2 separate regions of the Homo sapiens genome follow, and region 2 is linked to region 1. Evidence: fine-mapped QTL for protein levels in blood plasma. Region 1 holds a variant in brackets. A gene starts in the other region. All regions are shown on their reverse strands.

Region 1 (5,000 bases):
TGGGCCTCAAATAAGGAGAGGACTGACATAGGGATTGGAGCTGAGGTCAGGACCTGTCTGCAGGGACCTGAAGGTTACTAGGGAGGGGTGATGGGTAGAGAAATGTGGCCAGCCGACCCTGTGGTGGGTGGAATGGGGCATGCACTCCTCAGGGGACAAGCTCCTGCCCATCCTCACCTGGGTTCCTGCCTGCCTCTCTGAGGTCTGAACAGAGACCCCCAAGGTGGCAGCACACAGATGGGGCCAGACCTTTCTCTGGCAAACAGCTCAACTGGCAAAAGGGAAACTTTTTCCCTTTGCCCTGGGAGGAGGAAGCAAAGTAAAGATGCAGCAAAGACAAATCAGCATACCTGAGCTGCATTTCCATCACTCATCACACAAGAATCTATTGAGTGCTTATTGTTTGCTAGACATCATTCCAGGCATTAAGAAAATACACCAGTGAACAAGACAGACACGCTCGGCTGGGCACGGTGGCTCACGCCTGTAATCCCAGCACTTTGGGAGGCTGAGGTGGGCGGATCACAAGGTCAGGAGTTCGAGACCAGCCTGGCCAACATGATGAAACCCTGTCTCTACTAAAAGTACAAAAATTAGCCAGGCGTGGTGGCGGGTGCCTGTAATCTCAGCTACTCAGGAGGCTGAGGCAGGAGAATAACTTGAAACCAGAAGATGGAGGTTGCAGTTAGCCGAGATCGCGCCACTGCACTCCAGCCTAGGAAACAAGAGCAAAACTCTGTCTCAAAAACAAAACAAAACAAACAAACAAAAACCAGCCTGGGCAACATGGCAAAACCCTGTATCTACAAAAAATAGAAAAATTAGCCTAGTGTGGTGGCGCATACCCACAGTCATGAGCAAGTCAGCTGCCTCCTCGCCTGCCCAGAACTCCGCGGATCCCTCAGCCTCTGCCCTCGTCAGTCCCTTGCATGACTTCCCTCCAAATGATCAGAACCCAGTGGGAACCCAGGGTATACCCCGGCTGGCCCCTAATTCTCTCCTGCCAGGAATCCCTCCTCCCAACCTGAGCAACCTCTAAGAGACAGGGAGGGCTGCCGGTGCGGAGCTTGTCTGTGGGCAAAACAGCTCACCATGTTGGAAGGAGAATTGGGTCTTTGGGAGCCTCTCTGGCCTTGAGCCAGCCCAGGACGGGCATCAAGGAGGGCCAGGCAGCCAAGGTGCTTCTGCCTGGCAGGAATCAGGATGCCAGACGCCAGGAGCAGCCACTTTGGCTGGGTTCCCTGTGCTTAGACCCCATAGGGCCCCTCCCCTTCCCCACGTGTGGCCGTGGTTGCCTTGCAGCCATGTGGGCGGCAGCCACATTTCCAAAGGAATAGGAGCTGCAGGCAGGCCAGATGGAAGCAATTGCCAAGGGAAAGCAGCAGAGGTGGGGGCTGGGGAGGCTGGGAGGGCCCACGGGGAAGGAGGGAAGGAGGGAAGGAGGGAAGGAGGGAGGGAGAAGAACCTTGTCCTGCCCCGCCCCGCCCAGCTGAGAAAGCGGACAAGCGTGTGCTCAGGGTACGGCCCGGCCGGGATGTGGGGTTCGGGAGAGCACTCAGAGGTCAGGGTTTGTGTTCCACCTTTGACACTAATACACTGTGGCCTTGAGCAAACCCCTTCACGCCTTTGAGCTGGGATCTGTTTCTTCATGGGGCAAAATGAGCAAACTCCAGGGGGCAGTTGAGAACTGGGCTGAAAAGTGAAGGTTTTGGAAGCAAGCCTGGATTTGAGTCCTAGCTCAGCTGCTTACGAGCTGTATGACCTTGGCCAAGTAACTTAATCCTTCAATCCTCCATTTCTTCATTTATAAATGGGCTTAATTACAGGGTTGTGTGAAGCTCACATGAAGGGACGTAAAGTGTCTAGCACATCTTTTTTTTTTTTTTAAGTTTATTGGGCCAGGCTTTTAATAAGTGCCTGATTGCTAAATGGTAATATTTTTGTTATTTGCTGAGGCCATTTTCATTATGGGGACAGATGTACAGATGTTCACCCATGCTGCAGTTGGCAGAGGACGCAGAGCACAAGTAGGGTCGCTGCAGACCAGCATTCCTTAGCACTCTCCAAACTGGTCCCAGCACTCTTTGGGGCTGCCTCCCCTAAACAGGAAAGCAAGATCCTGAGGACCCCAACCCCCATGCACAGGCTTGAATGAGCTGCAGGTGGGACAAAGGAACTCTCCTACTCAGGTGCTTCTGGGCTTCTGCAGCCAGGCCAGGCCTTCCTCACAATCAAGGCCCAGGTGGGAAACTGGAGGCCCAGCCAGACCCACACCTCACTTCAGCCCGAGCAGCAGCAACCTCCTCCCTGCTGGGCCAGCAGTGGCACCCAGGGCTTCAGTATAGGCAATCCTACCATCTTATCACATCCTATCACAGGGCAGTGTGGGGTACAGGGGAACAGAGATGGGGTTGTGGCCAGGCTGTAGGTCCCAGGTAAAGGGCTCAGCCAACACTAAAAACCCACAGCTCTGGACACCCACACCCTCTAACCCCGAAATGCAACAACCCAAGCAACCTTTGGGGGAATTCAGCCCCTGCAGGGCTCAGGGGCTCCAGTCAGAAAGCTGACCAGCACTTGGCTAGGGCCTGGGCATCGCACGCTGCTGCTCTCACGTGAAGCTACACTGACCACTTCCTCAGTCTGTAGAATAAAGGACATCATTCACACACCTCCCTCCCCGAAATGTGGCAGGGGTTGGGGTGATTCTGAGGCCAGGGACAGCCAGTAGTCCATCCAGGGCCACTCAGGACACTCATACAGAAGCCTCTGGGAAGGGGGCAACAAAGAAGAGGGGGTTAATAACAAGAGTCACCCAAATCTGCCTACACTCACCATTTCCTCCCGGCAACCAAAAGCTTCAGGTCAAGGTCGTGGGTCTTGAGTAGGAAGGAGGATCCCAGCGTGAGGGAAACACGGAGCGGGAGCTAAACCACCAGCAGGGGCCTGTTGCAGGGAAACGTCCAGCCGGCCCAGTGCGACTGAACTGAGGGGGCAGGAAGCAGGGGCTGTTTGCTCGGGGTGTCCCACCCTGCACTGCTGGACTGCCCCGCTCTCCAGCATCTAAGGTCCATCTCCGAGGGGCCAGGAGCTGGGCTAGGCTCTAGCGGCTGCCTTGATGGCAATCTGTAGGCTTGGACTTCAGACCCCACTTGGGGCCCAAGCTCCCTCTCCATCCCCTGCAGGCCCCCCAGCCAGCTCCTTTCCCTATCGGCCCAGGGTCTGGAACTTGGCAGGCACGGAAACATTTGTATTAGTCCAAGATAGAGGGATCCCTTCCCTCCAACAGATGGTGCAAACCTTTGAGCCATTCTGAGAAGAATTCCCAATTCCATTGGGACAACCCCAGGAGCAGCCTCTCTGAGGAGAGACCCAGAGAACGTGCCCAAGTCAGACCTGGGGTAGCCCCCAAAGCAAGGGCAGATGGTGGCCAGTGGGGAGTTAGGACAGAATGACAGCTCAAGATGGAGCACAGAAAGGGGGTTTGGTCTCTCTGCTCCTGCTGGGGAAGGGAGCCCTTTCCAGGATTAAAAGTCCAGAAAGGAGCAGATTCTTAGTTCTATCCAGAAAACCGGATTCTAGGAGTCTAACGAGGTTGGGAGGCTGGCGGGGGCACGGCACTCTCTTCCTGAGAAGCAGAGGGCCAGTCACTGCTTCCCGTAGGGAAGGCAGCCCAGAGGCACCTCAGCCTGGGCCGCCAGCTCACAGAGAAGGCGGCCCTGTTGTCTCTGAACAACAACCCATCCCCAAGCTAAAGACACCCACTCTGCCCAAAGTCCAAGCTGGCAATTTCCAATTCACTCTTCTAACTCTTCCTTCCATGTGCACCCTCACAACCTCGGTTACCATCTTGGAGTCTGGGGGATCTGGCCCCAACTCCTGGCAAGCTCCCCATGTCTTGACAGAGCCCAGGGCCCATGGGGCAGCTTAGGATCACCCACCCAGCGCAATGGGGCCAGGCACAGGAGCAGTCTGGGAGTGGGCCAGGAGCAGGGCAGGGAACGGTCAAGGGGCATTCCCAGACCAGCTCTCAGCAAGCAAAACAACCTCCCGAGTTCATTTCTAGGCCCCAAACAGCGGGCACGTCCCCGGAACCCACTCTAGAATTATCGGGCAGCTTTGGAGAGTAACAGCATGGGAGAAATATTACCAATAGTGAATATTTATACAGCTCTCCCTCCGTGCAGGCGCCTTTCAAAGCACTTAGCATATATCAACTCATTTAAAATCCCCCTGGCAGATGCCAGGGCCAGGACCTAGAGGAGGTGGAGTCTGTAGGACGGGTCCGGCACAGCTCAGGAGACAGTGACACGGGTGTGTGTCTCTTGTGAGAACTCAGCCTGTACCAGGCCTGTTCCCAAAGTTCAAAAAGAATGAGTCCGCCTGAGCCTGGCTTCCACGCGGTACCCGCCTCC[G/T]GCGGTGGAAAGTACAGGCTTCCCCAAGAGGCCTGTGGGGGGTGCCAGCTTGTGGGTGGCCATGAGGTCAGACAGGGCACAGCTGGGCACCCGAACACTGCCTACACTCCCAGCCTTCTGGCAGCAGTTCCCTTAAGCCAGGCCCTCAGGACCCAGGCTGGGGAGCAGAGGAAGCAGCCACAGTAGGTCAGGCCTCAAGCTGCCCAGACAGAGCCTCCCCCCAGGACTGGGAATGGAGGGGCAGTGCTGGCAGACATGTTGGCAGTTCTGGGCTGGCCGGGAGGTCCCTGCCAGCCAGGTCCCCGAGGAAACACCCACAGCAGACAGCTGAGCCCACTCCCCCCATCGCATCCCTCCCACTGCTCACCACCCATGCAGCCCTGAGGCACAGTGGCCTAGGCCTGACGACCCCCATAACGTGGCCCTAGGACCCTGGGCACAGCCGGCCTCCCACTGACAACTCCACCTTTGGGTCCTGCTCAGCGACCTTGCGACTCCTGCACACAGGCGGACCCCGCAAAGCCTGTCACCTCCAGCACAGTCAGCTCCCAAGTGCTGGACCTGACCGGGGTAGTTGTGGGAGAA
Region 2 (5,419 bases), not on the chromosome of region 1:
TCTGGAAACTCATGTCATTCAGGCCTGGAGAATTTCTTCACTTATATTATTGATGATGTCGTCTCCTCTGTTTCATCTGCTCTCTCTTTTTAGGAAACTTATTTTTCAGATGTTGGATTTTCTGAACTGGACCTCAAATTTTCTTTACTTTTCCCTCCTACTTTTTATCTCTTTGTCTTTTTGCTTTACTTTCTGGGAGCACTTCTAACTCTTCTATTTATTTATTATTATTTTTTTTATCTACAATCACTTTTTTTCATTTCCAATAATTCTTTTGTGGTTCTCTGAATCTTTTTGTTTGTTTTGTTCTGTTTTTGAGATGGAGTTTCGCTCTTGTTGCCCAGGCTGGAGTGCAGTGGTGCAATCCTGGCTCACTGCAACCTCTGCCTACTGGGTTCTAGTGGTTCTCCTGCCTCAGCCTCCTGAGTAGCTGGGATTACAGGCACACACCACCACGCCTGGCTAATTTTTTGTATTTTTAGTAGAGACAGGGTTTCTCCATGTTGGTCAGGTCGGTCTCAAACTCCCAACCTTAGGTGATCCACCCGCCTCAGCCTCCCAAAGTGCTGGGATTACAGGTGTGAGCCACCACACCCGGCCTTGTTTTGTTTTTTATAACATGCTGTTCCTGCTTCACAGAGAGAATGTTGTCTGACACCAAATTATAGTTGCCTACATCACTCTAAGAGAGTTAGTAATTTTTTTGTTTTGCTTCCTTTTATTTTCTTCTCTTTGTATAGTCTTTCAGGTTGCTTCTTTCTTTCTTTCTTTCTTTCTTTCTTTCTTTCTTTTTTCTCGGTTTGGTTACTTGGTTGGCTTTGACTCTAATATGTTAGAAGCTCTCCTCAGATATCCTGAAATCCTGATTGCTCATGTTTAAAAGTGAGATATTGGCCAGGCACAGTGGCTCACGCCTGTAATCCCAGCACTATGGGAGGTTGAGGTGGGTGGATCACATGAGGTCAGGAGTTCGAGACCAGCCTGGCCAACATGGTGAAACCTCATCTCTACTAAAAATACAAAACTTAGCCAGGCGTGGTGGTGTGCAACTGTAGTCCCAGCTACTTGGGAGGCTGAGGCAGGAGAATCGCTTGAACCCGGGAGGCAGAGGTTGCAGTGAGCCGAGATCGCGCCATTGCACTCCAGCCTGGGTGACAGAGCGAGACTCCATCTCAAAAAAAATAAATAAATAAAAATTAAAATTAAAATGAGATATTAAAAAGCTAAGTTGGTGGGGCTTAATTGAAAGCCTCATGGTAGGAAGCTGGTTGGCCTGTTTATGAGGGTCTAATGTCCATATGTTTGGGTCTTTCCTCCTGTGCTGGTCAGACTCCCCAGAAGAAGACTTTTTCCATCCCCAATATGGATAACAAAGCCTTTTTGTCTCATCCTTGGATGCAGGTTGGGGCCAGACAGCTGGGGATCTCAGCATTCAGAATGCATATCTTCCCTTTATTTACCTACTTTTACAATGTTTCCTATGCTTTCAGCTATGCCTGGCATCCCTCAGCCCACATCCCTAGGTTTTAATCTCTCCAGAAGACAACACTAAAGTTGTTAAGCTTACCAACCCTCTAACTTGTCAAGATCTAAAGATCGATAATATAGGCAGACTCACATCAAGGCACATTATGGTGAAATTTCAGAAACCAATGAACAAAAAGAAGATTCTACAGCTTTAGAGGCAAGAAAAGGGTCTCAAAGAAAATAATAAAAATGAGAATGGTTTTGGATTTCTCAAGAACAACACTGGAAGCTGGACGAGGGACTGTTGCCCAGGCAAGGGTAATGATGGATGGGTTCTGGGATCTAACCACAGTACTTCTCAAACAGCTTTCTTCTAGCCTTTCTTGTTTAACTCCTCTTTCACCCTCCAGTTGCAGAATACCTTGTGCTGCCATTTCCTGAGGATCTTTTTTGAGGATTTCTGTGTTAATCGTGTTATTTCTGAGTTTTCCCCACTACTGGCTTAGGGTTCTGCCATCTCCAGGCTCCTAAGGCAGCTACCACTAGTCCAGCTGCTGTCTAGCTTCCAGGGTGATTTTGCTGTTGTCTTCTCTCTGTTCTTCCCACCTTTGTGGGCTTATGTAATTTTTTTTAATCCCTGTTTTACAGCCTTTGCAGGGTTTCAGAAGAGGTCAAAATTAGATGGGACAGTCTGTTTTAAGACTCACCTTCCTTTTTTTTTTTTTTCTTTTTTTAGAGAGAGAACTTTACTCTGTCGCCCAGGCTGGAGTGGAATGGTGCAATCTTAGCTCACTGCAACCTCCACCTCCCAGGTTCAAGCAATTCTCCTGTCTCAGCCTCCTGGGTAGCTGGGACTACAGGCGCCCGCCACCACAGCCGGCTAATTTTTGTGTTTTTAGTAGAGATGAGGTTTTGCCATGTTGGCCAGGCTGGTCTCCAACTCCTGACCTCAAGTTATCCACCCACCTTGTCCTCCCAAAGTGCTGGGATTACAGGCATGAGCTACTGCACCCAGCCGAAAATTTACCTTTCAATCTCTCATTTCTCTCTAGCACTAGATTATAGTTACCTACGTTGCTTTCCAGTTCAGAAATAACCTTTTAAAATTTACTCCTTCCATTCAGCCATGTTTGTAAAGACAAAACATGTCCATTCTTGGCAATGCTTTGTTCACACTCCACTTGGAGGACCAGGACAGTATGTCAGGACATCTTTACTTCAACTATGTAGTTGGGTTGTCACGCAAAGGATGCTGAAGTGCCTCCCTATTTTCTTCTTTCTCGTTGCTGCTACTTTCTGGAACCACCACCAATGCTTCATATTTGGGAATTAGTGACTCTCATTCCATTTTCAGAAAGCTGGTGTCAACTATCCCAAGAAAGACAGTTAAGCAAACTTTGGAGAGACGAAATAGTAAGGAAATAACTTGTTCCTTAGGCTTAACTTGTCAAGCAATATTTCTGATATTTTGCATTCAATACACTGCCATTCTAGTACTGTTGTGGGTATTACTGTATGTGGGAAACAATGGTGTCATGGATGTTAGGAAAAGATGCTGGGATATATATGCCTGCTTAGAATCAGGAGAAAAGACAAATCTCCTTTCACCCTCCTGGTCAGCATAAATATTTTTAAAGATTGTTTAGATTTTTGTCAAGATTTCTTTCTCTTGATGAATTTGTCCTCGATTCAGTGGGGAGAACCAAGAGCCTCTCTTCGTTTCTCATCCTCTCCCTTCCCTCTAGTTCTCAGTTTTCCCATTTTTCTGCACAAGGACAGAAGTGGACTAGAAGATTACATCTAAGGTCCCGTTTAGCTCACGATACAGGCCCTCCCAGAGGTGGGGGTGTGGGCAGGGTCATGTTCCAAGTTCTGCCTCCCTCGATGGACTGTGGGCTCCCAGAGGGCAGAGCTAGCTCTATTCTCATGATTAAGGACATCGAGAAGGAAGGGGTGACGCTCCTAGGAGATGATTTCCCACCCCTGTCCACAAGGAGGATTGGGGCAGCCTGGAGAGGCTCAGTGCCCGCAAGAATTAAGCAGAAGTTGGGACTGGACTGTAAACTGATGCTGTCGCACATGCTTTGGTTCCTGTCCCAAGCCTCCCAGGTTGCTCCGGGTGACTCTGGCCCAGCTTCTGGCTATCCATGAACACAAGTAGTCCCAGGGAGTCATTCTGGCAGAACCCAGGTCTGCTAGCTAAGAACTCCTGAACCATCCGCAATCTCTGCCTGTGGCCTGGACTTGGTGTATGGCCGGCAGGGTGGAAGGAGAACCCACAGGGCCTCTGAAGACAGGCAGGTGGCACACCTGCGGCTGGGAGGATTTGGAAAAGGAGTCCAGCGCCATTCATTTTTCATTCATTTTCCAGCCCAACGTTTGACCTGAATGCTTCACGCTCACACTGCACACACTACTCCATTTATAATACAACTCGAGAAGGGCACATACTACTCCATCCACAGCTCAGTGAAGGGATGCATACTACTCTACTCACAATTCAACGAAGTGGTGCATCTGCCTCTAATTTACTAGCTACCCTGGGGACCTTGGACACGTTGCGTGTCTGGAAATACTGCAGGTGATGTGTGTGGAGTAGGCTGCAGGCTCACCGTCCTGCAAATACTAGCTGTACCACCACCGGCTTTAAAGTCCAACAGACCTCTGGCCCAAGTCAAGTAGCAGAGGATCCAGGGCTTGGGTGGCCCACAAATAGGATTCTTCTCCAAAACGAGGCGCATAATGGCCTTTGTCTCCTCGACAGAAAAGGGAAGGTAGACTGGCTTCCTCTATGGGCGACCTTCGCGACTCTGGAGAAAAAGACCTCATCATTCTCAGACTTGGGAAGGAAGACTAAGCCCGGAAAGGTGGGGACAAGTCCGCTCCAACGCCGCAATGGGGAGTAGTAGGGACCCAGCAACCCGGTGCCGGGAGCCCTGCACCCTGGGAGGGAGAGGCGGTCGCTGAGGCAGGAAGAGGAGGAGGAGAGAGAGGAGGGACGCACCGGGTCAGCTCGCGATCCTGCTGCGCAGGGCGGGGCTCGGGCCGGTCCGCCCGCGCGCAGGTGAGTGAGCCAGGGCGGAGCGCAGCTGCGCCGGGCTTGGGCGCCTGGGGCCGCCGCTCCCCACCGTCGTTTTCCCCACCGAGGCCGAGGCGTCCCGGAGTCATGGCCGGCCTGAACTGCGGGGTCTCTATCGCACTGCTAGGGGTTCTGCTGCTGGGTGCGGCGCGCCTGCCGCGCGGGGCAGGTGAGTGCCGGGCTTTGGAGGCGGATGGCGTGGAGTGGTGAGCTAGCCAGCCAGCGGACGCCCGGCGGAGATGCGGCCGAGGGACGCAGGGTGCGGAGGGTGCGGAGGGTGCGGAGAGAGGGCGGGGACGGCGTAGTCAAAATGCGCGGGTGGCTCCGGGACCCCCGGACTGTTCGGTTCCTGCGCGCGCCGCGTCGGGCGCGTGGGCCTTGCCCTCCTGGAGTCAACCTTGCCCTCGGCACGTGAGAGTGTCCCCGATCGGGGAGCCTCCCGGTCCGGGAGGATGAGCCCGGTGCTGGCCGAGAAGGCGGGAAAAGGAGCTCCCGGTAGCCGATCCCAGGCGACATGTCCAAGGTGGCGCGCCGTGCGCCCCAGGGTCTTTGCCGGGATTCTTGAAAGCACCCAGGCAGGGTGTGGGAAGAGATCTTTCCTCTCCAGGCTCGCCCTCTACCTCCTCGCCTGGTCCAGAGAGAAGGTGCAAAAAAAGTGCTTTCACGTCCGCATTTCCCACTAGATCCCCTTTTTCCCGTCCGCACGCTGCATTCCCCCTCTCCTAAAGTTGAAGAGCGTTGGTGCAAAAATGAAAGCGCCCGGATTTCTTTTAGGGGGTCCCAGAGAAAGCCGCCAGGCATCTGCGCCACCGCAGAGACTGGACATTCCCGCGCCCCTCGCACTTTTTGGCAGTGGACTTTGAGGGCAGGAGG

Which allele goes with the higher level. Alleles are on the strand shown, and positions count from the first base shown. The strength of an association depends on the size of the effect and on how common the allele is.
With allele T in place of G in region 1, the plasma level of the protein whose gene starts at base 4,543 in region 2 is lower (moderate association).

What was found. PIP is the chance, under the fine-mapping model, that this variant and not a neighbour inherited with it causes the effect. Protein levels are from antibody-based Olink assays in UK Biobank. Linkage for the fine-mapping came from a reference panel and not from the study's own genotypes, which makes the PIPs less certain.
Region 2: CDCP1 starts here. The variant in region 1 is fine-mapped to the plasma level of the CDCP1 protein (UK Biobank, PIP above 0.99).

Annotation. Positions count from the first base shown.
Region 1 is chr11:126,356,184-126,361,183 of GRCh38, reverse strand. All of the region lies in intron 1 of ST3GAL4 (ST3 beta-galactoside alpha-2,3-sialyltransferase 4), which reads right to left. Among named protein-coding and RNA genes, the nearest start is that of ST3GAL4, 3.0 kb to the right of the region's middle. RefSeq lists enhancers at 2,149-2,890, 4,540-4,689, 4,377-5,000. The variant G/T (reference allele first, on the strand shown) is at 4,416.
Region 2 is chr3:45,145,502-45,150,920 of GRCh38, reverse strand. CDCP1 (CUB domain containing protein 1) reads left to right here and starts at 4,543. Exons shown (of 9, transcript NM_022842.5): 1 at 4,543-4,715. The coding sequence starts at 4,634.